6 separate regions of the Homo sapiens genome follow, and all the other regions are reported to be linked to region 4. The links are microRNA targets in miRTarBase. Many come from high-throughput screens and were not tested one by one. Region 4 holds a microRNA gene; each other region holds the end of a gene's coding sequence. Distances are between the middles of the regions.
The links. Region 4 holds the annotated microRNA hsa-miR-6738-3p (CUUCUGCCUGCAUUCUACUCCCAG, at 1,483-1,506, opposite strand). A microRNA usually pairs through its seed, bases 2 to 8, with sites in the 3' UTR of a target mRNA and lowers its output. Matches are read on the target gene's strand: a 7mer-m8 pairs with bases 2 to 8, a 7mer-A1 pairs with bases 2 to 7 and ends in A, and an 8mer does both.

Region 1: miRTarBase lists AGMO as a target of hsa-miR-6738-3p. Seed matches in the 3' UTR shown: 7mer-m8 at 3,245-3,251.
Region 2: the mRNA of BOC is a reported target of hsa-miR-6738-3p. The part of its 3' UTR that is shown has no 7-base or 8-base seed match.
Region 3: the mRNA of WDR35 is a reported target of hsa-miR-6738-3p. Seed matches in the 3' UTR shown: 7mer-A1 at 4,021-4,027.
Region 5: the mRNA of EPB41 is a reported target of hsa-miR-6738-3p. Seed matches in the 3' UTR shown: 8mer at 2,859-2,866 and 7mer-m8 at 230-236.
Region 6: miRTarBase lists MSH5 as a target of hsa-miR-6738-3p. The part of its 3' UTR that is shown has no 7-base or 8-base seed match.

What each region holds. Positions count from the first base shown.
Region 1 is chr7:15,197,332-15,202,482 of GRCh38, forward strand. It overlaps AGMO (alkylglycerol monooxygenase), which reads right to left. Exons shown (of 13, transcript NM_001004320.2): 13 at 2,986-4,028. The coding sequence ends at 3,954. Among named protein-coding and RNA genes, the nearest start is that of DGKB, 300 kb to the left of the region's middle.
Region 2 is chr3:113,286,047-113,291,197 of GRCh38, reverse strand. It overlaps BOC (BOC cell adhesion associated, oncogene regulated), which reads right to left. Exons shown (of 20, transcript NM_001378074.1): 20 at 3,739-4,523. The coding sequence ends at 4,336. CFAP44 (cilia and flagella associated protein 44) reads left to right here. Exons shown (of 35, transcript NM_001164496.2): 35 at 1-4,268. It overlaps SPICE1-CFAP44 (SPICE1-CFAP44 readthrough (NMD candidate)), which reads left to right. Exons shown (of 52, transcript NR_183050.1): 52 at 1-4,268. Among named protein-coding and RNA genes, the nearest start is that of BOC, 77 kb to the right of the region's middle.
Region 3 is chr2:19,908,882-19,913,840 of GRCh38, forward strand. WDR35 (WD repeat domain 35) reads right to left here. Exons shown (of 27, transcript NM_020779.4): 27 at 1,382-4,827. The coding sequence ends at 4,677. Among named protein-coding and RNA genes, the nearest start is that of TTC32, 9.4 kb to the left of the region's middle.
Region 4 is chr1:155,949,791-155,954,941 of GRCh38, forward strand. It overlaps MIR6738 (microRNA 6738), which reads right to left and starts at 1,546; the gene lies at 1,483-1,546. It overlaps ARHGEF2 (Rho/Rac guanine nucleotide exchange factor 2), which reads right to left. Exons shown (of 22, transcript NM_001162383.2): 14 at 5,112-5,151; 15 at 2,838-3,038; 16 at 2,326-2,445; 17 at 2,129-2,196; 18 at 1,951-1,986; 19 at 1,693-1,743; 20 at 1,039-1,482; 21 at 509-692.
Region 5 is chr1:29,114,987-29,120,137 of GRCh38, reverse strand. It overlaps EPB41 (erythrocyte membrane protein band 4.1), which reads right to left. Exons shown (of 21, transcript NM_001376013.1): 20 at 4,335-4,439; 21 at 97-3,319. The coding sequence ends at 4,341. It overlaps TMEM200B (transmembrane protein 200B), which reads left to right. Exons shown (of 2, transcript NM_001003682.4): 2 at 1-709. Among named protein-coding and RNA genes, the nearest start is that of TMEM200B, 6.3 kb to the left of the region's middle.
Region 6 is chr6:31,761,860-31,767,010 of GRCh38, reverse strand. It overlaps MSH5 (mutS homolog 5), which reads right to left. Exons shown (of 25, transcript NM_172166.4): 23 at 5,056-5,151; 24 at 4,826-4,899; 25 at 4,335-4,591. The coding sequence ends at 4,480. It overlaps SAPCD1 (suppressor APC domain containing 1), which reads right to left and starts at 4,355. Exons shown (of 5, transcript NM_001039651.2): 1 at 3,843-4,355; 2 at 3,456-3,596; 3 at 2,852-2,947; 4 at 2,656-2,745; 5 at 2,161-2,575. The coding sequence starts at 3,956. The coding sequence ends at 2,480. It overlaps VWA7 (von Willebrand factor A domain containing 7), which reads left to right. Exons shown (of 17, transcript NM_025258.3): 14 at 247-548; 15 at 627-766; 16 at 954-1,128; 17 at 1,241-1,421. The coding sequence ends at 1,417. MSH5-SAPCD1 (MSH5-SAPCD1 readthrough (NMD candidate)) reads right to left here. Exons shown (of 29, transcript NR_037846.1): 23 at 5,056-5,151; 24 at 4,826-4,899; 25 at 3,843-4,591; 26 at 3,456-3,596; 27 at 2,852-2,947; 28 at 2,656-2,745; 29 at 2,161-2,575. It also overlaps SAPCD1-AS1. RefSeq lists an enhancer at 3,206-3,761.

The DNA of each region.
Region 1 (5,151 bases), not on the chromosome of region 4:
AGATTCCACACTGAGGGATTAAATTATATAATCACTAGTAAAAATGAAATTTGAAAATATTTAATAAACTATCATGTAAGCTGTTAATGTTAAATACAAGGGTTTATATACTTTAGCAACTAATTGAACATCTGATTCATGATTAGGAATGCACATATTGCTAAATATCAGGACTCTGAGACGATTAGATTCAGTTTAACAAAAATAATTTGATGGAATGAGATGATATGGAAGTAAATGGCATAACTAATAGAGCTAAGGTAATGAGCAAGTCTGGAGGAAACTGACAAGTCCTGTAGCCTCTTTCAGACATATGGCAATCCTATAAGTAAACTTACGATGTTGCCATTCTTAGAAGGTTTAGAAGTTCTGGACTCATTCACCCTGTCAATTAATCTTATGACTAAAATACTTATCCTGAGAACTTTTTTTGTATCTTGGAGCATCAAATTGAATTGAAAATACTCTGAACTTAAACTCCTCAGCTTATACTTTTAAAGGCTTGCCTTATTCAGATGTCTGACATCGTGGAATGGGGAAACATCATGGACTTCAATGTTCGACTTCAGAGAGTTTAAATTTTATTTTGGTCACTTATTACATTTCATGGGCCTGTACAAGTTATTTAACCTCAGACTCAAAATTATCTGCTATAAAGTAGTGTTAACAGCTCCTAACAGGATTGTAGAGACTAAATAAAATAATACTAATAGAGGACTACTCATTAAACAAATGCTCCTTTCCTCTATCTTTTCTTATGGTAGATTAGGAAAAGTAAATATCTTCATATGATTTGCAAAGTCAGTTTGCATCTCTCCGATAGAAGTGGTGAGTAATTGACGAGTCCTATTTTTAGGGCTTTCCCGAGAGAGAGAGAGAGAGAGAGAGAGAGAGAGAGAGAGAGAGAGAGAGAGAGAGAGAGAGACAGAGACAGAGAGAGAGTGTGTTAAAGTCCTTCCAGTAAGCATACATTACATGGTATCACTCAAGATCAATTTACAACATTAATAATAGCTGTATGTTCTGTCATCATGTATTAGTGCTCTGCAAAAGAAAACTGGACTGGAAAATTAGCAGGGTTAAAGAATAAAGTGAAGAATAAAGTGCCTTGGTTAATAATGCACAGAGGCCCTAGAAATGTAATCGCCCAATGGGTTCATTGCCTGCTGCCAGGACAGAGCCGATTTATCAAGACAGGGAAATTGTAATAGAGAAAGAGTTCAATTCATGCAGAGCCAGCTGAATAGGAGACTGGAGTTTTATTATTACTCAAATCAGTCTCCCTGAAAATTCGGAGACTGGGTTTTTTAAGGATAATTTGGTGGGTAGGGGGCCAGGGAATGGAGAGTGCTCACTGATCAGGTCAGAGATAAAAATCAAAGAGCCTTGAAGCTATTCTTGGCTGAGTCAGTTCTTGGGTGGGGGCCACAAGACCAGATGAGTCAGTTTATCCATCTGGGTGGTGCCAGCTGATCCATGGAGTGCAGGAGCTGAAAAATATCTCCAACACCAATCTGAGGTTTCACAATAATGATGTTATCCCTAGGAGCAACTGGGGAGAGTTCGAATCTTGTAGCCTCTAGCTGTATGACTCCTAAGCCTATTTTCTAATCTTGTGGCTAATTTGTTAGTCCCACAAAGGCAGCCTTGTCCCCAGGCAAGAAGGGGGTTTGTTTTAAGAAAGTGCCGTTATCATTTTTGTTTCAAAGGCAAACTATAAACTAAGTTCCTACCAAAGTTAGCTCAGCCTGTGCCCAGGAATAAACAAGGACACCTTGGAGGTTAGAAGCAAGATGGAGTCTGTTAGGTCAGATTTCTCATTGTCTTAATTTTTTCACTGTTATAATTTTTGTATAGGAGGTGTCTGGAACATTACCTGTCTGGTAACCACTCCCACTTTCATTGGCACAAATTTGTATCTTGAAAATATCTGTATTTCTAATAGAAAACCATTCACAATCACAGTGAGGTAAACCCAAGAGAGAAGAGAGAGAATAGACAGAATTCAATTTACTCAAAGAAAACTGAACTTCACCACAAAAGGATCTTTTCTCATTTGGGGGAATTATTTATTAACATTTCTATTATTAAACTCATTTTTAGGCTAATCCTATAAATTCACATATATTAAAGCATATACACATATTTATGTATCATTCCTTGGGGAATCATTAAGCTCTTCTGACATACTAAACAACTATGTAAAGATTAGCAAAAAGTCTCTTTTCTTTGCCATTACTGAAGAATGTGTTTTACCCACTGAAAAGTCTCTAGAATGTAGAATCAGGGTCTTGAGAATGTTTATGCCTTAAATTTCCTAATTTCAAGCCAGCAGAGGGCTCCCTACTGTAACATGATTCTGTATATGTATACAAAATTCTGTGAAAATTGTTGTTAAGGGACAAAAGCAGGATTCAATATATGTTATAGGCTTACGTATTGTCTATAACTATGTGTTAAATTAAGAAGTATAAAAAGAATGAAGCAAAGCCAAACCCACTTCTGATACTTGAGATAGAATGTGTTGCTTTTTCATCATGCAAAATTTAATCTTCCTCTGCTGTTCCAGTTTGAAAACTAAATATGCTTCAATTCTGTATCCTCAGTTCACATAGACACCTGCAGTCTGATTCTCTTAATACTCTATATTTTTGTCCATTCAAAGATTAAATAATGTATTGCTAATATGAGATTATCTAAGTCAGGCTCCTTAACCCAGTGATACATAGGCAAAGCTCAATGAAGAACAGCATTAGTTTTTTTTAGTACATGTGTCTTTGATTATTTAAATTATTAAATTTTATTATTAAATTATTAAATTTTAACTTGATTTCAAGAAATATTGGATAAATGAAAAATAAAGATTTTTTTTTTAACTTTTTCCAGTTCTCATTCTTTGGACTTCATCCTGCTTATCCCTGTCAGTTCCCTCCTAACGAAACACTTGGTGGATTTTTACAATCCCAATGAACAATGTACACACAACACCTTGGGTAATTTTATTTAGAGAATTAACATTGTTCTGATAACTTTAAATAATGCAGAATTGCTGCATGCTGCCCAGTCTGCCAAAACAAATTGACCAAGCATATTAGAGAAATGTATGACAAAGTAACCTGTTGAAAAAACTAATTCTGACAAATTCTGTTCATTTTTCTTTCAGTGATGTCTTTTTTCTTTGAGACGGAGTCTCGCTCTGTCGCCCAGGCTGGAGTGCAGTGGTGCAATCTCCACTCACTCCAACTTCTGCCTCCCAGGTTCAAGCGATTCTCCTGCCTCAGCCTCCAGAGTAGCTGGGACTACAGGCGCACACCACCATGTCCAGCTAAATTTTTATATTTTTAGTAGAGACAGGACTTCACCATGTTGGCCAGGATGGTCTCTATCTCTGGACCTCATGATCCGCCCACCTCAGCCCCACAAAGTGCTGGGATTACAGGGGTGAGCCACCGCGCCTGGCCTCAGTGATGTCTTTTTCTGGAATGCAGCTTCTTAGGTTATATGGATTGCAAAGGTAACTGTGGCCTTAGGAAGACAACCAATGTAATACATTTTTATGACTACAAACATGTATCTATGCATAATTTTAGCAAACATCAAAGGAAACATTGTTTTCAAATTGATGTAAAGGCAATATTCCTTCTTGTTTTTACTGTTTTTAAGTTTCATCCCTTCTTTTTATACTTGTCATATAAGGCTATCAGTTAATATAACATCATTATATTTGAAATCTTTTTTTAATTGTAGTAAAGGGGGGAAGTAACCAAAACTGACTTTAATTTTTAATAGAAAATAACAAATGTGAAAGGCAAACAATAGTAAATAAGTAATTTTACTTTTCATTGAAGAAATAGTTCATATAAGCATTACATAAAATAATTACATTTTAATATGCAGTCATAATATGCGTGTGGACAACTCATTAAAAGAAGAGAATTATGTACAAATTCAGGTTATTTCCAAGGGTGAGAGGTGAGTTGTTTCATGCTTCTAACTCCCCAGAAAGCAATGCAAATGGAAAAAACAATCTGAAGAAATAAAACACAAAGAGAAAAAAAAATTAGAAGTGAATCAATACTATTGCTCAACTGAATTAAAAATATTTCCCTAGAGGAAAATGAACATGGACATTTTAGGGAGTCAAGTTATTAAATTAAATCTAGCAATTGTTCACTGATAGAACTTAGCCAATTTAACTTAAAACATGGTGTGTGAAGACAGGAGCAGGAGTTAAGAAGTTTTATTTCTGTGGCTTGTTTCTTATATTCACAAATCTGGGTCATTTCAAGGAATGAGGCTAGACAAGTTAGATATTCAGACATTTCTTCTGACATTTGGAGATACAGCATGCTGTATGCATTATACTAGATGATCTAATTGCTTATATAGGTTAAGAAACCTTTGGAATAGGAGAAGTAAAAACACTGTTAAAGAATCCCTCCAAGTCAGTATGATCTAGCTTACTATGAATTTCGCCCAACGTGAATTAAATTCTAAACACTGCTGATGATTTACCTCCTCAGTCTTTTGATTTTATCAGGTGTAAAAATGTAACTGCAAATTTCTTTCACACTGAAGACTTAACTGAATCATATTAAGCAGCCTGAAAATTTCATTGAGTTTGTTCAATCCAGGCTCTGGTCATGGTCTTTGCACCATCAGATTTCCCAAAAGTAAACACTTCCCTATGCTCTTACCTAGGCACCGACAATTAAAACTATAGGATTGCTTTCCTGATCACCATTTTAGGTGGTTGGGTAACTGGAATGATGATGAAAGCAAACAATGCCAAAACAACCAGAGTTATTGGGATAGCTGTGCAGGAGTTTCTCTATATTTTTCATGTATGTGTATACTTCCCCTCCATACTATTAAAATAGGACCAGATGCCTCTCCCCAAGAAGAATATCACTATACCTGGAAGATTCACTGAAATATACAAAGAGAGAACATTTAATTAAGAAGATGAAGGCATGGGAGCATTCTGGTGTGGGGAACTCCGGTGAAGTCAAGACTGTTAACTGAGGACAGCTGTTAACTCACAGAAAATACCTTGAACTATGCTGATTTTGCTATTAAAGCATGAATGAGGAAAAAACATCACCAACAACCAAAATACAAATGAGCAAAAAAAAAAAAAAAAAAAAAAAA
Region 2 (5,151 bases), not on the chromosome of region 4:
ACTATCATTCAGCAATTCATGAGAAAACTTTGTTTTCTTGATCCTTAGAAAATAAACTTAGATGTTATTAAGTGTTCTCTGAGAGGATGCAGGAGAAAAGGACATTTTGTCAGCTATATCTTAGAATAGAAATGCAAATTTCAGTTTTGGCATTGTTGACTTCATAAAGCAGTGTTTTGAGGGCTCAGGATTCAGGAAATACAAACAGACATGGCAGAGCAGTTTGCTTTGGGTTGGCAGAAAGCAGGAAAATAACCAGCCTTCTTGGATTGCCCACAGTTTTTGTAGACTCCTCAGTTCTGAGTGGAGCAGAGGGGCATGCTTAATAAAACAGTCAATAAAGAGGCTTTTCTTTAAAGATTTCTGCAACTCCGTCAGAATTCTAAGTTTTCCCCATAGTTTCTCATGTCCCCTGCCATTTTCTTTCAGGTTTTACTTGGGCCATTTGCTGGTTTTGATATAGATGAGGAGATAATGAAATAGATTTACTAGAGATCATCTTTAACAATCACCTTTGATTATGCATAACATTTTAAACTAATTGAAGAGTATCCTTTTGGTTTGGGGGTAAGTGCTCATTGAAGTTCATGGCTATAACCATTGCAGGATAATCTCACTGACATTTGGAATCCTGTTAGTAACAGAGCATAGCTCTTTAGATTAAGAGCTCTGTATTAACGAGCTACTCATTGAGGCTGTTCCAGGATAAGCTGGTCACTGAGAAGGGCGGGTGAAGAAAGGAACATTGCATAAATGTAGAAGGGAACTCAGCAATGCCAAGTCTTCCTCACCTGTGATTAGCCTGCTAATGTGCCCCCCAAAATTACAGACAGGTCTTGCTTTCTTTGTACATCAGCATATTCTTAGAGGTGGCCACTTGGCCTATTGTCTTCCTAAGATTCCTTCATATTCCTATTTAAGAGGTCAGAATACCTTATTGTTTGCACTTGTCACCATTAATTTCTGATGTAGTCACTTCTCTACTGGAGAGCACCCACTTTTTTTTTTAAATCACTTTCTGTGTTGTATATCCTAAGCCATGTGTGCCTTTCAAGTATTTTTAAAAATATGCTAGTCATAGCCCTGAGTGTCTTATTTATTGCGGTAAAAAATTACCCCCAAACTTAGCTTGAAACAACAAACTTGTGATCTCACCCAGGAGTGAGAGGGTTTCTGAGGTCCAGGAATCTGGGGACAGCTTGGCCGGGTGTTCTGGCTCAGGGTCTTTCGTGGAGTTGCAGTCACACTAGGAGCTGGGGCTGCAGCCATCTGAAGCTTGGCTGGAGCTGGAGGGGCTATTAGCAAATTCACTCCCTTGGCCATTAGGCAGGGCTTCAGTTCCTCGCCATGTGGGCCTCTCCATAGGGCCGCTTGGGATATGACTTCTCCCAGAGCAAGTGATCCAAGAGTGAGGGAGACAGCAAGAGAGAATGATGTATACAAGAGCCACAGTCTTTTACAGCCCAAGCTCAGAAGTGACATAGCGTCACTATTGTCATATGGGTCACAGGCTGACCCTGTGTGATGTGGGAGGGGACTGAACAGGGTGTGAATGCCAGGTGGGGGTCACCGGGGCCTTCGTGGGAGCTGGCAGCCACAAGAAGCAGCTGCCTGGAGAGAGTGGCTGGTCTCTGAGAAAGGTCTTGAGGCGATACCATCCCCTTGGTAATTGTAGAGAATCAGGAGAAGTTACGTTATCTTCCTGGGCCTCATTTTATTATCTGACAAATGAAGGATTGGTAGAATGGGTTCCTTCCCATTCTGAGATTCTGATTCTGATTGCAGCAAGAATGGACCTACAGTCTACAGAAGAGCCACATCAGGACTTGCTGTGCATTTCAACTGAGAGGAAAGCTAATCGGGATAATTATTCCCAAACTGAGCTGGACTAAATCACTAGTTAATTCTACAATATTCAGGGCTTCATTCCGCATGTTTGGGAATTGACGACAGTTAACACTGAATTACTTTATTTTGAATTGGACAAAATATGTTGATAGCTTTAGGTTCATTTCAACTTGATTCCAGGCTTAGTCTTAAATCTGTAGTTAAGTTAGAGCATCTGAGTCTTTGGGAAGTTAAGCTTCAAACACAAGTAGACCAGCAGGGTGTGGCATGGGCAGGGTGGCTGGGAAGCTATCCTGCTCCTGGCACACTTCCCTGCCTTCTGCTGTGCTCCCAGAGGAGCAGCCTCACCTCTGAGGGTAAGGCCAAAAATCAGCCTACACTGAGTTACTTGTGGGTCAATTGTTCATATAACTTGGCTCTTCTGAACTGTCATCCATAGTATCACCGATGATCAATCTCAGCATTGGAAGAAAAAGAAACCACAGAGTCCAGCCCCTCTGTCACAACTTCAGAGTAAAGGAGTTGCTCATGCCTGCCAGCCAGCCTGTCCCACCACAGCGGGCTCCCCAGCTTAGGGAGGTCTGTGAGCCATGTGCTAAATTTCTCTTTAGAGCTAAATCCATTGAGTGCTATGATTCCAGTGCTGTGCAGAAAGCAGATGTTTCACCTATCACTTCAGAAAAGTTCACCAGACTTCATTTTGACAGCTACCTTAGATCATCAAGGAGAAAAAGGAAAAAATGTAAAAACCAGTGGGGCTAGAAGGTGAGTTACAGCTCAGATTGGGGGGCCTCTGGATAGCAAAGCAATGACTGAGAGCGTCAGCCCTACCCACCCCAGAAGTGAGCTCTGGGCCGTGATGCCAGGTTGTCTGAAATCACAGTATCTTATTTTTTCTCTTCTCTTCCCTGCTCTGCTTCTCATTTCCTAACATTTACCTGTTCCTTACAGTCCTTCCTTTTAAATAATATTTTTAAAATACTGCTTTCCTGAAAACCATGCTGCACTTCCACATGAAGTTCTCTCTGACGTTGAGCTTGATGGAAAAAGGATGCAGAAGTCAGGAATAGCAGGTGCTATACTTATTTTGGCCAGCAGAGGATGCACTTGCCCTAAACAGTCAGAGTGACTCTTCCCTAGGACCCTGTTTATCAAATTCTTCATGTTTAAAAGCCAGGGTCTGGCCCCCCACTTAACGAGATTGTCTCAAGTGGCATTTCATCTGTAACTCAATTTTACAGAAATCTAGAAAATACAGGCTCCCCCCACCCTCTCCAGCCCCAAAACACAAAGCGTAGTAAGGCTTTCATTGCAAGCATCAGTCTCCATCTAATTCCACTTCCACATATAAAGATTTTAAAATTTCAATTAAAAAAGAATCTATGGTTGATCCTTTGGTTGGACAACAGTAAGTAAATGTTGATTTTAAACTAGTGAGTCAACTACTCTGGCAATGTTGGTGTATCTTTGGAAAGAAGGGAAGTGAATTTATTATGCACCATATGTCCATGTGTGGCACAGCACTTAGCTAAACAGTATTTTGGAGAAAATATTTGGTCTTCAACACACACCTATATAAAAAAGATTAGTTCTATTTCTTCAATATGACCTAAACTTCATCTCAAGTCCAGTTGGTAAGAGAACTATGAACCTGTTTTTCCTGGTCTGTTGTACAACGGTTCCCTTGTGGACTAAACGGTAATGTGTTCTGCATGAATCCAAGCACAACTGACATTCACTGTTTTAAAAAACAAAAAAGAGAAACATTTACTACCTTTTTCAGATCTCATTTCTGATGGACCTGAAAATATTGTAAGTGGGTATTTTCTTCAAATACTCAGAGACTGAATTCTAACATGTAAAGAAAATGCTGACTCACACATGACTCAGTTTGAAGGTTACAGGGAAGACTAAACATTTATTTAGAAGTTACAGTGTTTGTTTTTACAGAGATATGTTGCCACGGATTATTGATTCTGGAAGGTTTTTTAATGCTCATAGTGCTGTACACATCTTGGTCTGTTCTCATGGGCATCTTAGGAAAATGTTTCCCGTAGCACCGGATCCAGCCATCTGTGTGGGTGTCTCCAGGCTGTGATACCGTGCCCCTTGCTGTTCCCTCATGCTCGTGATGAACCATGTGCCTGGGATCCTTCCTCTTGCCAGCTTATCTGTGGGCCTCCTGCAGCCTCGCCTGCCACTGCAGAGGCCCCAGGTTAGGAGTCTGTCCCGCGCCAGCCTGTGCGGTGCTTTCCTGGGTGACTCCTGTTAGGTGGCAGCTTCTTTATTTTCCCTCTCCAACCTCAACGGGTAGGACTCCTTATGTCTCTCCAGAATTATAAAACATATACATTTATTTACAAGTGCATAAATATATAAATATGGCTATAATAGAAAAATAAATACCAATTTTCTCTGTCTCTTTTTTCTTCTTTTTTTTTTTAAAAAAAAAACAATATATAGTCTTTCTGGGATATCAGCTTCTGCCTAAATTGTGAGAGGTGGTGTTTCAAAAGACACACGCACCAGTGGCCCCGGGGAGAGCTGCATTCCAGGTTCCTGTCCTACGTAGGCCCCTACGGGGTGCTGGGGACACCAGTCTCCTCCACTCACTTGGCAGGAGTCAGGACTGTCCACCTCTTCAACTGGCACAAGGCCCAAGCAGCATGGGGGCCCTGAGGGGAGAAAGAGTAGGAACCATTAAAATCCAGATTGACCGAGGAGCCAACACCCAGTGACACTGGGCCAATCTCTATCTGTGGTGGAGGTGGTTACACTGGCTCTGGAAAGGGGACAGAAACCTACAACCGAGACAAGGGCACTTCTGTTCCCTCCAAGGTCTCTCATCAAAACAGGGAGGGCCACTTGCCACCCATTTCCCACTCATGCTGGGACTGTAGAGACTCCCGCACTGAGCCCACACCACAGGAGCAGATGAAGTCAGTGCAGCCCGTGAAACGCAGAAGGAAGCCCTGCTCTTTCTATGTTTAGGCGGCTAGTCCACCCTTTGCTATGGCTTCTGGTTACAATCATCCCACTCACAATCCAGTCCCCCCAGATTGACACGGTCCAGTTTAAATGATGCTGGGTCGAGCTTTAGGACCCAGCATCTTTTAAATTTAATCTCCTAGAGACAGAGTCCAGGATCTGCCTATGAATGGGCACACACACAGAGAAGCTAAGAAACGTTAGTGGATACTTGGTGCCCTCACCAAGTATCCACTGATTTCTAAGGAGACTAGCATGGAGGAAGACAATGGGATGGGCTTAGCGTGAATGGCCCAAAACTCCTTGGAGAAAAAG
Region 3 (4,959 bases), not on the chromosome of region 4:
AGTGTGTAGAAGCATCTCATTTTTTCTAAATCTCTCTCAATTTTACTACCTAGAAATTTAAACTGCCAAACAATAAATTAGCTAAATAATTTTGTTTTGTTTTTTTGTTTAGACAGAGTCTTGCTTTGTCACCCAGGCTGGAGTGTAGTGGCACAATCTTGGCTCACTGCAACCTCCGCCTCCCAGGTTCAAGCGATTCTCCCGCCTCAGCCTCCCAGGTAGCTGGGGCTACAGGAACCCGCCACCATGCCTGCCTAATTTTAGTATTTTTAGTAGAGACAGGGTTTCACCATATTGGCCAGGCTGGTCTCAAACTCCCGACCTTGTGATCCGCCTGCCTTGGCTTCCCAAAGCCTTTTAATGTCTACTTTCTTTTAATTTTAAAGAAATCTCTTAAGAACAAATACTGATTTTGGTACGAAGAAACCAATTATACAAATTCCTTCAGTGTCACTTCAGTTTTTTTCATCTCTTACATTCAACTAAAATATTTTATTTATAAAGATCAACTAATTTTACTTTCTCATCTATACCGTTATGTATTTTTGAAAATTTCTGCCATGAACATTTTTGCTTTTTTTTTTAATTATTATTATTTTTTGAGACGGAGTCTTGCTCTGTCGCCCAGGCTGGAGTGCAGTGGCACTATCTTGGCTCACTGCAAGCTCTGCCTCCCGGGTTCATGCCATTCTCCTGCCTCAGCCTCCCAAGTAGCTGGGACTACAGGCGTCCGCCACCACGCCCAGCTAATTTTTTGTATTTTTAGTAGAGACGGGGTTTCACCACGTTAGCCAGGATGGTCTCAATCTCCTGACGTCGTGATCCGCCCGCCTCAGCCTCCCAAAGTGCTGGGATTATAGGCGTGAGCCACTGCGCCTGGCCTGCTTTTTATATTCAAAAAAAAAAAAACCAGTAAATATTAGTTTCTTAGAGAAAAAAATGAATTGAGAAAATGGTCTTTAAAATAGACAGTAGAGGCAATACAATATTCCTATTTTCATTTTGAAACTGAGTAGAAAATCTTGGAGCTACATTATCAAATGTAGTATTCTTTATTTTCTCTTATAGGTCTAGTAGGACATAATTTCCTTCGTTCCTAAATGAGAACTCAGCATGACCATTAAGGAGTAGCTCACAGCAACCTCCAATATCTGACATTTGCCTAGTGCCTCTGGAAGGTTGTTGGGGTTTTTCCCCCCTTGTTTGGTAGCAAAAGTGGTATTGTATATCTATTGTACCTCCTGCTCCCTTTTCCCCTTCTCCACTCTGGAGCCCAATACCCTCCTAACCAACCCCCATCAGAATACTTAAATGAAGACACAGCAAACACCGTGTTCTCCGTAAGTTATAGATAAAGAAAACGTGGAATAAACACAAGTTATTTTTTTCTTCAATGTTTATTATTTTCGTATTTTTTCACTTAATACTACATAAAATCTAAGATCTCAGCTCTTGGAATACAGAAAAATAGTTTCAAAGTGTATTTTAGCAAAACAATTTATAATGAAATTAGCATTTGTGAATTAAGCATGTCAACATTACTGTGTTGCTTGTTAGGCACACTGCTTATTTGTACAGCTTTATCAGTCAGTTCCATCATTTCAATATTTTGGCCCACCACACCACTTTGAAACATGTAATGAAGGGCAAGTTTTATAATAAAAAAAACAACTTGGCATTACTCAACGGGAAGTCAGTACATGTTTTTTGCAAGGAGAACAACATAACTGTTTAATGATGCTGTCTTCAATATACTACCTAATTCTGTTTATGCAACTTCTCACCAGGTAATTGTTTTTTATGGTCAGTTTTGCTTTTCTTTGTCCCCCTAGTCAAGGGAGAGTTTGTTAGTGTTGTTATCTGGAAATTTCCTTCATGTCGAATAAAACCAACTAGATTGACTCATAATATAGGTGTTTTCTCTAGTACCATTTACACAGAAGACAAAGGTCCCCAAGACATTATGGCAGATCATTAAAACTTTCACAGATATAGATACCAAAGAGGCATAAGCTTTTACAAAAGTAAAAAAGATGTGCCTGTCTATATACATATGCGCGCACACACACACGCACACAAAATTAGGTCCACAAGGTATGAGAGGTTGTTTTTAGAGATACTGGTTTCTGGATCCAACTGAATGAGAAATATCAACTAGATATTGTTTAAATATCAACTAGATCCAGCAACTTAGGATCTACCTGGAATAATTCGTTGGTGGGAAAATTCTAGGGCTCAGGCAGCACAGAATTAGGGGGAAATGAGAAGCCTCCAAAAGAGAGTTTCCAAAGTTAGGTGAAGTCTGAGGAGTCAACAGGTGATTCTAGAACTAAAGCAAATGAAAGTGCAACCAACAAATCACAGTAAGGGGCTAGAGGCATGACAATCGAATGAATTCTCAGCTGATTCCTGAGACAGGAAAGGGAAAGAAGAGATACTCAAGCATTAGACCATGGACTAAGAATTGCAGCTCTGACCAAACTGTCCTGCAGGAACCTTTCAGACAGGCAGAACTAATAAGTGTGCCATCCCTACAACCCTGAACATTTCTCTTTCCTTGATGAAGCAGAGAATAGTCTCATCCCTAAAAACAGAAAGTCCTGTGGAAAGATGCAAGTTCAACAGGAGATGTACTGTCTTAGACAGACTTCTTTGTTAGGATGTGATTTTCTGATTTGGGGAAATTTCCCATTCTGGTATAGAACAAATGAGAAAGCTGGAATTCATTGTGTTACATTTAGGTAAGTAAGTTAGTAACCTAGGAGACTTATTAGGCAAAGTTAATAGAGCGTGTATGTGTGACCACAGATAGAAAGGAGCAAGAGATACCAAATATTCATGAAGCACTAAAAATATGAAAAGCCACAAAGATACCAAATATTCATGATACACTAAGTATGCATGAGACATATAAAGCCTTCAGTATGTGTGAGAAGTTGATTCAATTACCCACTGGTGACACTCATTCTGGCCTGTCCTTACCCAAGAAATACAATAAAATTCATGACTGCTCAGCAGACTAATAGGCAAGCTATTGCTGTGGTGAAGTGTACTTGCCCCTGACACCCTTCTATAGAGCAAGTGTACATCGTTGGCCTCAGGCACATTTCATCTGATTGAGTCATCTGGCTCAAGCGGCCACTCTGGTCCTTTTTGTAACCCGACTATTAGGGGAAAGCGTATGTGACAGAATGTGAGTCAGGACATAAAAACATTACAAAACCCAGGATTCAGGTGTTGCGGTCTTTCCACTCCACTGGCACGTTACACTAACAGTGTTAATCTATCATTGCTTTCTCCTTGTTCCTCACTGTGTATTGCAAATTGGTTCAATAAACCAATGTATTTTGAGAATTTTTATTTGGTTTATAAGGCTTTCTGTTCCATGACCTCTGGAATAGCTTGCGAGGCAGTCTATTTAGAGGCTACCATTGTACCAAGGTAATTTTCCACGAGGCGCATGAATAGAGACAGAGACCTCAAAGACTTCTGGTCTTCTCTTTTTATTTAGGCCAATGAGCCCACTCTCTATCCTAAGCTCATCTAGGCTCTAAATCTCTTCTCATAGCTCACTATTCCCAATCTGCAACATGCTGAACTTGTCTCTGTCTCTACAAGACAAAAACATATGAGATTGAGAAAGTGTATTGTAGCTGCAAAAACAAAGTTGCGTATCTCTATGTATTGCCTCTACTATATGTAAGCCAAACCTCAATAAAATAATCTTGATGAAATAGTGCAAAGGTCTGGTCTTTAGCCACAAAATGGGAATTCATGAGAAATAAACAGAGAACATTATTAGCTATGTAAAAGACATAAGAAATGATCCATTATGGATCACAACTGTTTATCTTTCAAATTAATAATAAATGAAAACAGACGCATATCAAGAAAAAATCACTCCCTCAACAATACTTGTGTAAATAAACGGTCCAACTTAGTGACAATGTTTCAACAGAAGCTATAACTACAAAATGGATATTTCTGTTTAAGTTATCTTCATTATAAATAGAGGCAAGTTTTCTGCACAATCATATGAAAGTGTAAATTCCAAATGCCATCTCTTAAATGAGACTAAAAGGACAGGTTTTAAAATAGAAGAATAGGGCTATTAGAAACAATTCAGATTGTAAAAAATGTCTTAAAATGCCATCGCCTCACTTCTGAAAATACAATAAAGAAGACATTCGACACTTATTTAATTAAATATGGCTATAGAGAAAGCTCATTTCATTATTACAATTGTTTAACTTCCTTGTAACATGGGTTATAAAAATTCTCTAAATTCAACTTTGCCCCACTCCCATGCTTCCCCCACTCCCTACTCCCTTCAAGATTTTTTAATGAATTCAGTTACCTTGACACTGTGAGAAAAAAATTTATTTGGAATATTTCCATGGTATCATGTAACCAAAAACAAGATAAACAAAAGAGAGAGGGTGAGAGAAAACATGGTTGATTTTCATACATTTATATGAAAATCGGCCTTATTATTTCACAGTTGTATTGCCATAAAAATTATTTTATTAACATATATTTTGTGCAAAAATTCAACTATAAATAATGAGGCTGATTTTCATACAAAACTCACAGAAATAAACCTTATTACATATACAGCATATAGCCATGTATATATGCTACATATATTTTACAGTTATATACAGTTTATCATTCCTTTATCCCACTGGACTATGGCATAAGGGGCAGAAGCTGTAGTGGCTTATTTCCTGAGCAAGGACACCGTGTTTGCATACACTGCACATCCAGAATTGATACTCAGTGATTGGGCTTCCTGTGGCAACGCATGTTGGCAGTTTCCCTTCTCCACTGTAAAACGGGGAGAAACAATTCATTATACTTTAAAACTTCTCATTAGTCTAACTTTATTTAATACACTTAAAAAAAACCTAAAGAATAAAACTTCTGAGATGAACATCAAATACTTTCATTTAAAAAAGT
Region 4 (5,151 bases):
CGCTTGAACCTGGAAGGCAGAGGTTGCAGTGAGCCAAGATCACGCCACTGCACTCCAGCCCAGGCAACAGTGCAAGACTCCATCTCAAAAAATAATAATGAAATAAATTAATTAAATAAAATAAAAAAATAAATAAATGAATTTTTTTTTGTAGAGAAGGTGGGTCTCACTATGTTGCCCAGGCTGGCCTCAAAATTCTGAGCTCAAGCGATCCTCCTGCCTTGGCCTCCCAAAGTGTTAGGATTACAGGCCTGAGCCGCCATGCCTTTTTAAAAAAGAATCTGTTTTTACTTCTAAAGGTTGGGAATCACCAACCAGTTGGAGGAGAGAGGCCCCTCCTGCTTCCTAGACTTCCACCACCCATTCATCATCAGACAAAACAGGAAGTCCCTCCCTAGAGTTACTACAAGCCTCACAGGTCAGTTAGGGCCCATTTGGAAGCCACAGCCCAATGGCCTGTACCCAGGCTGCACTCTACCTCTGGTCCATGTCTCCGCCAGGGTCTCACCTCGTGGACTGTGGGGCGGAGACAGACGGCTGCTACCTTCCTCCTCGCTGCCAGTGTCAGGGTCACTGCTGTCTTGCAGCCGCTCTTCGGGGCTCCCCAGTTCCTGCCTCTCTCGGTCCTCAAAGTTTCGATGGACAGAGCGAGTAGTGACAGGTAGATCCAGGCGGTCAGTGCCTCGGCTGGGCTGTGGACAGTGGGCAGGAAGAACAGCAGGTCAGGGACTGAGTAGTGTGAAGATTGGAGGTTCTGCTTGGCTGAAGGCAGCAGCTCTCCCCCCTGGGGCTCACCCATGAGTCCCCTTCAGGAGATCCACCACCAACTGGCCTCTTTCAGCACCACGACCCGAGTTAATTTCCTCCACCCCTGCACCCATCTACATTTCTTTTCAGTTCTCCAACCAGTATCTCAATATCCTTCAAGTCAGTTGACTGATTGCATTTGGGCTCAAATCCCCAATGGCCCAATTTCTTTCGGGCTCCATGGACCCTTATGTCCACCCCAGGTCCATTCACCACTGCAGGCCACCTTACCTGTGGGGGGTTGAAACTCAAGTACAGGGCATCGCCTGCGGGGAGGCTGCGCCGCCGAGGATCCACAGGTCTGCGGGCCCAGGGGGCCTCAGCTGGGAGTGGCTCGGTCTGGCCCAGGGCGGCCAGCTGCCTTCGAGCCTCTTCGGCCTCACGCTCCAGCAGTGCCCGGGCCTGCTCACTCTCCCGGAGCCGGGCCTCCAGGCTGCCAGCTTCGGTTGCCCGTTCTTCACCTAGCCGCCGGCAGCGCCGTAGCTCCTCCTGCAGCAGCGCATGTTGCCGCTGCAGTAATGCCAGTTCCGTGGCCTGCTTTTCAGGGGCCACAGGGGCAGCCCCAGCCCTGCCAGCCTCCCCATCCCGAGAGTTGGCTCGGCACAGCTTCTCCCGCCGCTCAGGGCCCTCAGGGAACCGGGCTTCCATCAGAGTGTCCTGCTGGGCCACAGCTGCCTGGGAGTAGAATGCAGGCAGAAGGGTTTATCAGAACCCCTGTGCTCTTCTACCCCTCGCCTTCACCCTCCAAGGCCCAGATCATCGCTCCTGGAGAGCTTGGATTGGGAGGGTATTTAGAAAGGCCTGTTGGGATGACCATGCCCCACCTAAACAGGCATCTCTAGCCTGGCTCCTCCCCTTCCCCATTCAAGCCCTTGTCCTACTGACCTGTAGGCCATGTAGAAGTCCATAGAGATTGACCAATCGCTGTAACGCCTCCTGAGGACAGACAGGGTGGGAACAGGGCCCCAGCTTTAGGATGGGAGAACTGCCCAAAAGTTGAACAAGGGTGGGTGTGGGGACAGTAGGATCCGGAGACATACTTGAATGTAGACGCTTTCCCCACCCCACTCCAAACTGGGCTCTAACTACTCAGACTAAGAACATCCTCCCTTCAGTCTCCTATACCATCAATTCCCATCTCACCTCTTGCGGTGATCTCAGCTGATTTCCATTTCGATCCTGCAGAAATGGGCAAGAATGGGGAGTCAGCAGGCACACAAATCCTGGGTGCCTGCCCCTGACAGCTTTGTGTTGAGGATCCAGAGGCTGGCTGTCCCTCTCCCACCCTCTTGCCAAGTCCCAGAACCTCTTGAGGACCTACCCTCTGGCTAGAGTCTGAGTCAGCTCTGCAGAGTTCAATGGAGCCATTGAAGGTTCTGGCCTCACCATCTGTTGAGAAGGAGAAAAGGATGGCTGAGCTCACTTCCCTGGGGCCCTGATACCACTTGATCCCTGGTACCACTCTACTAACTTTGGCCCCTCCCACCTACTACCTTGGTCCCCTGCCCTGGTACTCACTGGCAGTGACCCCAGGACTCGTGTTACCACCGCTGTCTGGTTCCAAGGGCAGGGCTGGCTCTCGGGGTGTCAAGAGCAGTTCCACTCCTGGCCCCACCAGCAGGTCTTTCAGACCCTCCACTGTGGGGAAAGAGGAAGAGGTGAGAACAGGAATGACACAGGACCCTGAGGGGAATGCCATTCACCCCCACATGTGGGACACTTGGGCATCTGGGGGAATGCCCCCTGCACTGGCAGTGGGGTTTCACTCACACAACCACTGATGAGGTAAAGGGCAGTAAATGCCTACGAGGCAGCAGAGTCCATGCAGCATGGACGATATGGAGCAGCAGCAAGGACCACACCTCCTCCCCTGCCTTTCCCAGGAACTGGCCCAGAAGAGGCACTCAGGGCCGTTTATGGTTTATAGGGTTGGCATCCCACTTGTCTGTGTTTGTCCATGTCTAGTCACATGTCCACATTCTGTGACGGTGAGTGCTTGAGCCTGGACTCTTCCCTGGGAGCTCCCTCACCCTCACGGATGGCATCCTGCAGCAGCCGCTCGCCACGAGGGGACTCAAGGGACTCAGAGCGGAAAAGGCCCCTGGGCAGGGTGGGCAGGGCCATCCCACTGCCACCATCCTCTTCGGCCTGGAAATGGGTCATCTCAGCAAACAGCCCGACCTTCTCTCGCAGCAGCTCCACCAGTGCCCGGTCCTTCTGCTGCAACTCCACTGCAGATAAGGAACAAGTGAGGACATGAGAGGACGTAGGGGTATGCAAGAGCGCCAGTAGAGGACAGCCCTAGGGGAGAGGGGTAGGGTGGGGCAGTGTGGCAGACTTAATTTTGTTATTTTGGCATTTATAAAAAAGAAAAAGCTTTCTGTTGGTCAGGTGTAGTGGCTCACACCTGTAATCCCAGCACTTTGGGAGGCCAAGGCAGGTGGATCGCTTGAGGCCAGGAGTTCAAGACCAGCCTGGCTAACATGGCAAAACCCTGTCTCTACTTAAAATACAAAAATTAGCCAGGTGTGGTGGCACGCGCCTGTAGTCCCAGCTACTCAGGAGGCTGAGGCACAAGAATCGCTTGAACCCAGGAGGCAGAGGTTGCAGTGAGGCCGAGATCACACCACTGCACTCCAGCCTGGGCGACACAGCAAGACTCTGTCTCAAAAAAAAAAAAAAAAGATTTGTGGAAGGGGTTGCAGGTTGTCCAACAGTGTTCATTCTTTCCATCTTCCTTTAATGAGAAAATGCATAGAAGTTTCATCTGGGCACACATGGCTGCCCAGTTAACAACTATGTTTTCCAGCCTGACTTGCACGTGACTATATTGCTACATGACTACATTCTGGCCAATGGATATGAGCATCTTCCAGATCTGCTCTTAAAAGAAATGGGTATAGGCTGGGCATGGCAGGTGGATCACTTGAGGCCAGGAGTTCGAGACCAGCCTGGCCAACATGGTGAAACCCTATCTCTACTAAAAATACAAAAATTAGCCAGGAGTGGTGGTGGATGCCTGTAATCCCAGCTCCTTGGGAGGCTGAGGCAGGAGAATCACTTGAACGTGGGAGATGGAGGTTGCAGTGAGTCGAGATCACGCCACGCCACTGCACTCCACCCTGGGCGACAGAGCAAGACCCTGTCTCAAAAAAAAAAAAAAAAAAAAGAAAGAAAGAAAAAGAAAAAAGGGTATAAACTCTATTCCTTTACTCCTCCTTGCTAGGTGTGATACAGGTGTGACAGTGGGAGCTGGAGTAGCCACTTCAGACATGACATAGAGATGAAAACTTCATGTTAAAGATGGCAGAGCTGCACCACTACTCTGCACTTCCCACTTTGAACTGTTATGTTGACAGCAATAATATTCTACCTTGTTGGGGTTTTTTTTGTTGTTGTTGTTACCCAGACTGGAGTGCAGTGGTGCAATTATAGTGTATTACAGCCTTGAACTCCTGGGCTCAAACAATCCGCCCACCTCAGCCTCCCGAGTAGCCAGGACTACAGGTGTGTACCATCATGCCTAGCTATTTTTTTTTTTTTAATTTTTTGTAGAGACAGGGTCTTGCTATGTATGTTTTGTTGCCCAGACTGGTCTCGAACTCCTGACCTCAAGAGATCCTCCTGTCTCCCAAATCCTTCTGGGATTAAAGGCGTGAGCCACTGCATCCAGCCAATCTACTTCTTTTTTTTTTTTTTTTTTTGAGATGGAGTCTCCCTCTGTTGCCCAGGCTGGAGTGCAGTGGCGTGATCTCAGCTCACTGCAAGCTCCGCCTCCCAGGTTCATGCCATTCTCCTACCTCACTCTCCTGAGTAGCTGGGACTACAGGCACCCGCCACCACCCCCGACTAATTTTTTTTTTGTATTTTTTAGTAGAGACGGGGTTTCACCGTGTTAGCCAGGATGGTCTCAATCTCCTGACCTCGTGATCCGCCCACCTCGGCCTCCCAAAGTGCTGGGATTACAGGCGTGAGCCACCGCGCCCGGCCAATCTACTTCCTTTTTTAAGGAAGAAGATTTTTGTGGTCTTTTAGTATAGCAGTTAAATCATACCCTAACTAATATAAGGCCTTACAGTGAAAAAGTAAGTTACTCACCCAACCTTGGTCTTCCATATTATTTTTACACACATGGTAGTATACACTTTACATTGTTTTAAACCTTGCTTTTTTCACTTAATATGTTTCAGTTGTGGATCTACACCAGCCCTCATAGAGCCATCTCATCTTTTTAACAGTTGCATAATATTCCATTGTGTGAATGTATTATAAATTACTAAGGAGCTCCTTGTGGGTGGACTTACTCTTAATTCGCCGCAGGTAAGCCTCATCCTCTGTCTCAAT
Region 5 (5,151 bases), 130 Mb from region 4:
ATGACTTGAGTTTAGGTCTCCCCCACCCATATTTAATTTTTCCCAAGTTGCTGGTAGAAGAGAAATTTAAAAGTGGATCAATCCTCACAGAGAGAGTTCTTTTTGTTGTTGTTTATTGAAAAAAATGCAATACAAGAAGCAAGACCAAACAGATATCTAAACACTACAACCACTTCTACTACGAAAGGCCAAAACAGCAGACTTGATTATTGCCTGTGTAGTCTAAAGATTCTGCCAATCTGATTCTGCTGCCCGAGTTCCTATTTTTTCAAGAAATGTAAACAACTACTTGATATGATTCATAATTTTAAAAAAAATTTACAAAGCTCCTTCATTTTTGTCACCAAAATAATACATTTGAGAGAGATTTGTAGAAACAACCAGCCTGGGGCTGAGATCCTGGGCAGAAATTTCCCGTGAGCATCAAAAGGCGTCAGTCAGGCCGCAGCTCTGGCTCCAGTTCCCGAGGTTTGTTGTCTCCTCACCCCCAGCTGCCAAGCATCCCCCCAACACACACTGATGGGCCCAGCGGTGGAGGGGGGGGTGGGGACGGGGATGGGTCACGGGGCCCTGACGGGTCCCGCAGTTAGGCTCCCTGAGCCCTCGGCTTATAAATACAGGTCTTGCTTTGTGGGTGGGTGCCAGAGTCCTCATGTGGCTTGGAGGAAATCTTTATTTCTCAAATTAAAATAAAATTGCAGCGAGAGTTGTTACTGTGGTGTGTCTGAGTCACTCTAGGAAAACTGTTGCCAAGTTTCTGACCCTGGAAATGTAATTCTCTTCCCCCTCCTCACCATTTCTACCTGGACAGAGTCTGTTTTTCTTCACACAAACACACATACACACAACTGCAGAAAGAAAAAAAATCCAAACAATTGCCAAACCCCAAGAACTGTTGCCAGAGATGGAGGAAAGGGGAAGAGGCCTGGAAGGACACCCATCTTGCTGGGCTTGTCCAAATCTATGGCTTCTAAGAGCCTGAAAGGCATTAGAGCTCTTTTCATCCAATTTACAGACAACGAAGCCGAGAGAAGTGAGTTGGTGACAGAGCTGAGGGAAACGTTTAGGCCCCCGATGAACGGTCCTGTGCTGTGAAAGCTGCCACACTGTTCTAGATCACACGGAATATTCAGTGGGTTAGTTTTTAAAGGGACACTCAGTGCCCTCTGCCTTTTCCCCATCCTCTTCGTTCCACAGGTCTGGAAGCCCTGGTAGCTCTTCCTACAGGCCATCTGGCCATCAGGCAGTGGGCATGCACTACATGTTCGTTTGATGTAAGCTGCATTTCTTGTCACCACTCCTGGCAACACGACCAGGCTTGGGCACTACCCCAAAGCCCACCTTTCAGACCCTCTGCCCACAGCCTATAATTTTGTTCCTGAGATAGGACAAGCTCTTTCCCCTAAGCCTGTCCCACGTCCCACCTGGGCTCTTTCCCTCCCTCCTGTTGTTCATGTCTCACATGGGTACCAAAAGAAAAATGCACACACCCGAAATGAGTTCAAACCAGCCGAAACAAAACTCAGGCAGTGGAGACTTTGGACGGTGTTGGGAGAAGCAGCTTTAGACATTTCTCTTGCTCACTGCCCTTGAGCCCCAGTGACTGCTGCCCGATACCCACTGTCTATTTTAGGAAGCTGGAACTGGGATTCTAAGGAGCCTTGAGGCCAATGTGTTTGTGGGAAGCAGTTGGAAGGTTAGAGAAGTTCTGTTAAATAAAAATGCCCCAAATCGGCCGGGCGTGGTGGCTCACACCTGTAATCCCAGCACTTTGGGAGGCCAAGGTGGGTGGATCACCTGAGGTCAGGAGTTCGAGACCAGCCTAACAAGGTGAAATCCCGTTTCTACTAAAAATACAAAAAATTTGCTGGGCGTGGTGGTGTGCGCCTGTCATCCCAGCTACTTGGGAGGCTGAGGCAAGAGAACTGCTTGAACCCAGGAGGCGGAGGTTGCAGTGAGCCGAGATCGCGCCACTGCACTCCAGCTTGGGCAACAAGAGCGAAACTCCGTCTCAAAAAAACAAAAAACTATGCCCCAAATCCTTACCAGGAATTAGGGCATCATCTTCACTTTCAAAAATCAAAATGAAAAAAAGGAAAACTAAGCCCCAAACCCACCACAAAATCAAGCCTTCAAAACCTGACAGACCTCAGCTGGTGAGTGGGAATGAGCAGGGCTGGGGCTTATACCCCTTGTCATGTGGTGTCTTGTGGGGAGAACGGCTCCTAAAAGTCAATTCCTTGCTCTAGAAGGGTGTCCTCAGGCAGGTTCCTGTTGAGAGAAGAAAGGTCAAAAAAGAAAAACCCTTCTCTGAGCCACATTCCTTGTCATTTGGGATGAAAGAAAGGCCCAGGATCAGACAGAAGTAACCCCATTCCCCTGTGTGAAGTGCACACTCTCAAAACTAGAAAACCTTATTTTAAAAACCTCATTAACTTTCCTTCCCCAAATCACCACTAAAAATGTTCCATTAGAGCTTTTGGCCCAAAGTGCCTATTTTTCTGTGAGATTTGGTCTCCTGAGATGGGAGCTAGGGGGAGCACTTAGCTGAGCCACTGCTTCTGATGAGGTAAAAGGGTAGCTGGAGAGGTGAAGGCCACGGATATGTTCAAACATTCACAGTATCAGATATCTGAAGCAACTTCCATGTCTTTGACCCAAAGAAGCTCCAAAAAGAAAGCAGGAGGGAGAGGGGAAAAACAATACTACATTCTCAGCAGAGGGCTCTGCCTTACCAAAACCACCCGCAACAAAGGAACAGGGGCATCTTTCCGAGGTCTGTGGATCAGGGCTGGTGCCCTCCCTGGCATTCTGATACACTCACATCACTGGCTCTGAGAAAGGGCTGGTTCATGAAGTTTCTGCCATCATCCAAAGGGGATAAGACTAGGGAGAGACGCGGAAGTCCCACTAAGCTGGCTTTGGCTTCCAACACAGCTGACAAGAGTCCTTGGAGGATTTCCCGAAGAATTCCATGGACCCTGTCAGTGTCTGTTGGGGTTGGAAATAAATGGGCAGAGAGGCTAGGCTGAAGGGGTTACAAACCACCCAATTAAAAAAACCCCAAAACTCTTAAAACAGTCTATAGAGTGAAAAGTTGAACAATTCTGATATCCTAATATAGAAAAAGCTCTTCAAAAGGATCAATGAGATCTAGAAGAATCTCTTGGTATAAACTCCCAATAGAAACTGAAATTAATTTTCTGGTGATTTAGAATAATCTTGAAAGTCTGAAGTCTGACTATGGCAGGTTAGCTTCTTTATCATTTTGCTGGTTTCTCTTGGATGGGAGAAGGGCAGAGTTGGGGTAGGTTAGTTCCTAGAGAAAACAAAGAAGCAAAATTTAAAATCCTGCAAAGGAAAAAGCTTCCTAGTCCCATTGCCAAGTTCCTGTGGCCATCAGTGACAATGGGGATGTGAGCAGGTTTACAGGGCCTGGTCCCACCTAGTGAGATTGGTGGCTTCTTCAAGTCTTTTTAAAATTACTTTTAGGCATGAATTTATCTGGATCCCTGGTTCCCAAAAAGCAGCTTCCCTGCTCCCAGCTCTCTACTCTGGTCTCAGAGCTTCAGCCATTACCTCCCTGCTCTGCATGCCCACCCATCTCCAGACAGCCTGATCCTGCTCTTCTTGGTTTTTTCTCCTCTGGCTTTCCCAGGTTCTGGCTCAAAGATACCTGTGACTGGCCAGGCGCGGTGGCTCATGCCTGTAATCCCAGCCCAGCACTTTGGGAGGCCAAGCCAGGTGGATCATTTGAGGTCAGGAGTTCGAGACTAACCTGGCCAACATGGTGAAACCCCGTCTCTACTAAAAATACAAAAATTAGCTGGGCATGGTGGCACATGCCTGTAGTCCCACCTTCTTGGGAGGCTAAGGCAGAATTCCTTGAACCCGGGAGGCGGAGGTTGCAGTGAGCTAAGATCATGCCACTGCACTCAAGCCTGGGTGACAGAATGAGACTCCGTCTCAAAAAAAAAAAAAAAAAAAGAGAGACCTGTGACAGCAGCAAGCAGAGCAGTAGAGAGAAGAGAGGGGGAAGGTGAAGTGGATCTCCAGCAGGATGCATGAAGACTCAGAGGGTAGCTGGGGGCTTATATCCAAGTTTGGGTCCCTCCTCTTACCCAATAATGCTGGCACTGCTACAGGCTGCTTTAGTTGGAGCCAAATACTTAATTTCCTATATCTCCCACATCAGCCTCTCGTCTGCCTTTATCAAGTCCCAGGGTGAACACCTCTTTGTGGGGATGGGCTCCCAGTGTGTCCGAGGGTCCCATCCAGAGCCCTCTCAGGCTGGGACTGTGGGCACCCTCAGCCCCAGCAGGAACGCCCAGTACCTGAGCTCACTCATCAGCAATCTCGGTCTCCTGGTGGACGACCACCTTGGTCACTGACATGTCTGGGTGCTGCTCCTTTGCCTCCTTGATGGCTTGTACAAGGACCTACAAAAGACAGAAACAAGGGCAATGAGGCAGAAAATAGCCTGATGGCGAAGGAAGGCAGTGGTCATCATTTCTCTGATGTTCTGACAGATCCAATACTCCTGTCTGCAGTACCAGGGCAGCTTTAGGCTAAGCCAAGCTGATAATTACCTTACCCACCCTATCCTGCATAGGGAGGCTTCTGGACTGATAACACAGGGACAGGGAAGGTTAGCGCTGTCTTCTAGGAACTGGAGAGGGACTTCGGGGGTCATAGCTGTATCTGTTATATGATCCTTTATTTTTTTTTTATTTTTTGTTGTTGTTGAGATGGAGTCTCGCTCCGTCACCCAGGCTGGAGTGCAATGGTGCAATCTCGGCTCACTGCAACCTCCGCCTCCCAGGTTCAAGCAGTTCTCCTGCTTCAGCCTCCTGAGTAGCTGGGATTACGGGTGTGTACCACTACGCCCAGCTAATTTTTGTATTTTTTGTAGAGATGGGGTTTCACCATGTTGGCCAGACTGGTCTCGAACTCCTGACCTCAAATGATCCACCTGGCTTGGCCTCCCAAAGTGCTGGGATGACAGGTGTGAGCCACTGCACCTGGCCTATATTATCTATTATACCTATCTATTATCTATCATTATACCTGGAGGGTCTGAGAGGATTCACTCAAGATGTGAATCTAAAGGACAAAACAACATCTGTGTTCAGCATGGGTAAGTGGCAAGTT
Region 6 (5,151 bases), not on the chromosome of region 4:
TAATTTACATAATGTGCACTAAAGTGTACAGTTTGATGGATTTCATATAATACACCCAGTTCAGGATATAGAACATTTCCAGCACCCCAGAACTCCCTCCTGATGCTCCCCATCAATACCCCTCGAAGGTAACCTATTTTCCCATCCATACTCCCCAGAGGGAACCCCTATTTTGAAGGCCATTAATTCTTTTCTCCCTGTGTCTCCGAATCTCACAATGTTCTCCCCTCCTCGCCCCTGTCCCAGGTCTTCAGACCCAGCTGCTGGTAGAAGTGACAGGGTTGGGTTCCAGAGCCAATCCTGGGGATCCTCAGCCGCATTTCTCCCACGTCATCCTTCGAGGGGTCCCAGAGGGTGCCGAACTAGGCCAGGTGCCCTTGGAGCCCGTGGGACCTCCGGAGCGAGGTCTCCTCGCAGCCTCGCTGTCGCCCACGCTGCTGTCCACCCCTAGACCCTTCTCCCTGGAGCTGATTGGCCAGGACGCAGCGGGGCGGCGCCTGCACAGGGCTGCCCCTCAGCCTAGCACTGTAGTCCCTGTCCTTCTGGAGGTGAGACGCCAGGGGAAAGTGCGGCTGGGGCTGGAGAGAGTTAGAGCGGCCCCTTCCCTGAAGAACCCTTCTCTGCAGCTTAGTGGCCCCTCGGGTTTCTTGGCCCCGGGCAGCAAAGTCCCGCTCAGTCTCCGCATCGCCAGCTTCTCGGGCCCTCAGGATCTTGACCTTAGGACTTTCGTCAACCCCAGCTTCTCCCTCACCTCCAACCTCTCCAGGTGAGGCTCATGAACCCTCCAGCTCCCTCTGGCATCTTGCCCGGCCAATGCTTATCCCAAGCCCTGCCCCTGTCCCCCTCCGACTGGCCCTCAGAATCCTCCTCTCCGCTCCCGTGCCCCTGCAGGCGTCCCGACTCTAGGCTCTGGGCAGCCTGGAGCTTTAGCGACGCCTATATCCTCTCTCCAGGGCTCACCTGGAACTGAATGAGTCGGCCTGGGGCCGCCTGTGGCTGGAGGTCCCAGATTCAGCGGCCCCGGATTCCGTGGTGATGGTGACTGTGACTGCAGGGGGACGAGAAGCCAACCCAGTACCCCCGACTCATGCTTTCCTCCGGCTCCTGGTATCGGCCCCAGCCCCGCAGGTGAGGAACCACTACTTTCCATCACAGGGTGGGCAAGGCCGGGGAGGGTGGTGTAGGTTTAATTTGAGTACAGCTCTAGCACACCCTGTCATTCTCTTCCTTTTCCCCACAGGACCGGCACACCACCCCTACCGGCTCATCTGACCCGATCCTCACCACGGCCACCCCTGCCTTTTCCCCCTTCACATTGGTGACTCAAGGCAGGGCTGGGGCAGGGCTGGCTGCGGGCAGCCCCTGGTGGGGCACAGTTGGAGGGGTGCTGCTTCTGCTAGGCCTGGCCTCCTGGTGACACAACGGGCTCTAAAGGGATGGGTCTCCAGCACTATTTTCAACCTGCCCCATTGGTAAGAAGACCTGGGACACATTTGTCACATAGGTCTTAGGACCTTACCTCTCCTAGCTGGGATGAAGGTTTTCTCTTTTTTGTTGTTGTTGTTTTTTTTTTGAGATGTAGTTTTGCTCATTGCCCAGGCTGGAGTGCAGCGGCGCAATCTCGGCTCGCTGCAACCTCTGCCTCCTAGGTTCAAGCGATTCTCCTGCCTCAGCCTCCCAAGTAGCTGGGATCACAGGTGCCCGCCACCACGCCCGGCTAATTTTTTGTATTTTTAGTAGAGACAGGGTTTCACTATGTTGGCCAGGCTGGTCTCAAACTCCTGACCTCAGGTGATCTGCCTGCCTCGGCCTCCCAAAGTGCTGGGATTACAGGCGTGAGCCACCGTGCCCAGCCAATGAAGGTTTTCTTTCTCCATCACATCCCTTTCCTTTCTTAGAAACTTCGAGACTGGGGCTGGGTGCAGTGGCTCACGCCTGTAATCCCAGCACTCTGGGAGGCTGAGGCAGGAGGATCACTTGAGCCCAGGAGGTTGAGGCTGCAGTGAGTTGTGGTCGAACCACTGCACTACAGCCTGAGCGACAGTGAGACCCTATCTCAGAAACAAAACAAAACAAAACACCCTGCAAGACTGGGATAGAGGGCAATGGATATTCCCACAATGCACTTTTCCTAACCCTATGAGAAACAAACCAAAGACATTTTTGGAGAAAGCTGCTTTCTGGAGCAGTTTCAGTTTTATTTTTGTATTTAAGGCTGAAGGACAGTTTCAATAAACATGCTTCTTCCCAGAGGGATTTCAAAGAAAGATCGTTTTTGCATGTCATATAGGGGAGAATGAGGACATGAGACACCAAGAAGATGAAGTTTTCAGGAGCAGAGGAGAAACTTTACACCAACATGTCTGAACTTCATTGACTCACTACCTGGAGCCATTTTTTAGCTGTTGAGTTAAGAAACAGAAAAAGGAGCCTGGGGCTTCTGACTCTTTCACCAGGCTTAGGGGAGTGAGAGGAGGGTTTAGACACGGGTAGGGCCTCTTGGCCCCTTGGTGCAGCCCCGCTGAGCCATCTCCTCCTTTGGCTGGGTGACTCCTTTCTGCTGCCTTGACAACTCCTGGAGGAGAAACAGATGGGGCCTCTGGGCTCCTCCCAGCCCTGTAGGGTGGGGCTCCTGCCCTCCTTCTTGAAGTTTACCTGTTGCTGCCACAAGTTCTGCTCCCTTCGTCTTTCCTTTGAATCCTGGGTGGTGCAGGAACTAGCCTTGTTCAGTGGACTTGGGGAGAACTGGAGGGGAAATTCGCTGTGTTTTCTGTTAAGCCAGCACTGACCCCAACAACTCCCCTCTCTAGTCCAACTTCCCAAAAGTCTAAACTGAAAACAATAAACTCACCTTCTCATGAATCAGATTCTGCAAACAGATGTTCACCTTTTGAATCTGGGCTAACGGGGGGCGACCAGGCTCTGAGTGTAAATCTGTTAGAAAATTCTAGAGGAGGAGTTGGAGGCTGACAACATGGTGAAAACCTGAGGTCGTCTGCCACTCTATTCCTGTCACCACAGGCCATCCCTCTCATCTGGATCCCCTCGTCCCAGTACCCTCCCAGGCAGGTGGGAAAATCCAGTACTCTCCACCTCCATCTCTTTAGCACATCAGTTCCTCCATCTCCCTCAAATAGCACAATACCCCCTTTCACTACTCTTCATGGAGCCTCCCTGTCCATCCCTGCCCCATTGGAATAATCCAGGCCACACCCTCATCTCCATGGAGTGATCCAAATCCCTCTGAATGGAATGCAGACCAGCTTCCTCCAGCCCCAACAATGAACACCAACTTAACACTTGGTGGCATCCTGTCATTACGATGCTGCCTCCAACTCATGATCCCTGACCATTAACTCTCCCCTCTCCAGAGTGGTCTCAGGCTGTGTCTACACATTCCCTGTTCCTCCCTCCCTGGTCCTCCCCCCATTCACACAGAGGGGCAGCCCCCATACCTCACCAAGGGCCCCTAGATGCAGCTGCTGTCGCTGTGCCTCCCTCAGATGGTCTTCAAACCAGGCCTGGCCATGCTGTAGCAGCTCCAGACCCTGCCACAGGGCATCCTGTTCTCTCTCCAGAGCCTGCATCCTGCGTAGCTGGGAAAGGCAATCACAGAGGCTGACTCTCACGCCACAGTAGGGCTCTGGGTTATGGCCCTTTCTCTCCACCCCTAGTTGGGTTCACTGTGTGGTCACTGAGTGTGAACCCAGACTGGCCACTGAGGACCTGGAGGGCAAGGGGAGGCAGGCGGGAACACTGTGGGCCCTCAAGTTGAATGGAAATATAAAGGGCAGATCTATTGAGAGAGTTCCCCTGGGACCTCTTGTTGGGCTGATACTCACCCAAAGGAAGAAGCTCTGGGCCCCTGGGTCTTGGCGGCTTGTCCCCAGCGGCAGCAGCAGGACTGTGTAGGGAGCCTGCACCAAGGGCACCCCGCCAGAGCCCTGGCTCCCCATGGCTCTGAGGTGGGAAGGGTGGAGCCACTCCCACTGGTGCAGCCCGGGCTGGTCCCTCCCCTCCACCCCTGCCTTGCACCCATCCTGCCTCTGTCAGCCTCTCAGGCCCCTTCCTGCTGTGTCTGTCTGAGGCTGGGGTGTTCCTACTTGAGAAGAGAGACCATCTCCCTTGGACCCCTCTGTCTTCCCTCTAATCTGTTTTGTAGGGCCTCTCTGAAGGGGTTCGTTCTCATGAAGTATCCTGGGGTAGAATCCGGGAGTCTTCCTACAGCAACAACACTGTATTTTTACTGAGGCAGGGCAGGTTCCCCTGTGGACTCCTGCTCTGTGTTTTGGATCTTTCCTAGTCTCTTGTTTTGAGACTAAAGAAACAATATCTTTCTTCAAAATAAACTTTATTCCTAATATGAAACAAAATTTCTAGAGAAACTAAAAACTCTGCGTCTGAGGGAGATAAGGAAACAAAGAGGGCATGGCAGCCCACCGGAGTCTCAGGAGGCTGGGGAGGACACTGGAAGGACTCTCAGAGGATGCTGGTGGCAGCAGGCAGCACTTCCTGGCTCATGAAAACGTTCAAGTCCAGGTTAGGATCTTCCAAATCCAGTTTCATAAACTTATCCACTAATGTCTGGCAACTGAAGAAGAGAGAAAATCGCAAGATTTATGGCAGAATGGACAACCAAATCCCTGGGCAGAGGGGAGAGGCTGTGGCACAGAAAACCTGGGATCTTGAAGATTTAGGGATTTCAGAAAGAAATGGTGGGTTTCTGAAGGGCAAAGTGCTGGAGGAAGGCTGAGTCCCTGAAAAGGGGAGAAGAGTTGCAGGAGAAGATGCAGAGAGGGTAAAGACACTGGGGCCATATACGCACTTTTCCATTTGGTTCTTCTTTAGCAAATCCTTGACAGGCTTGATGGGTTTTCCACTGCGGATCAAGTCTGAGACCTAGGAACAAGCAAGAAGGTGGGAGGAGTAAGGGGAGTGGGGAAGAGAAGGGGAAATAAGGGTCAGAAATCCTGTGGACCTAGACCCAGGCCCAGTAGGACTAGGAATGAAAGGGAGCTCTGATGTGGAGGTGGTTGCACATTTGGATCTCATCACCTCCTTGCCACGAGCCACAAGCTTGTCAGGAAGCCCAGCCTGGGCAGCTGTGTGGGAGGCATGGCTGGCCTTCGCAACACCTTCGCAAACCTGATA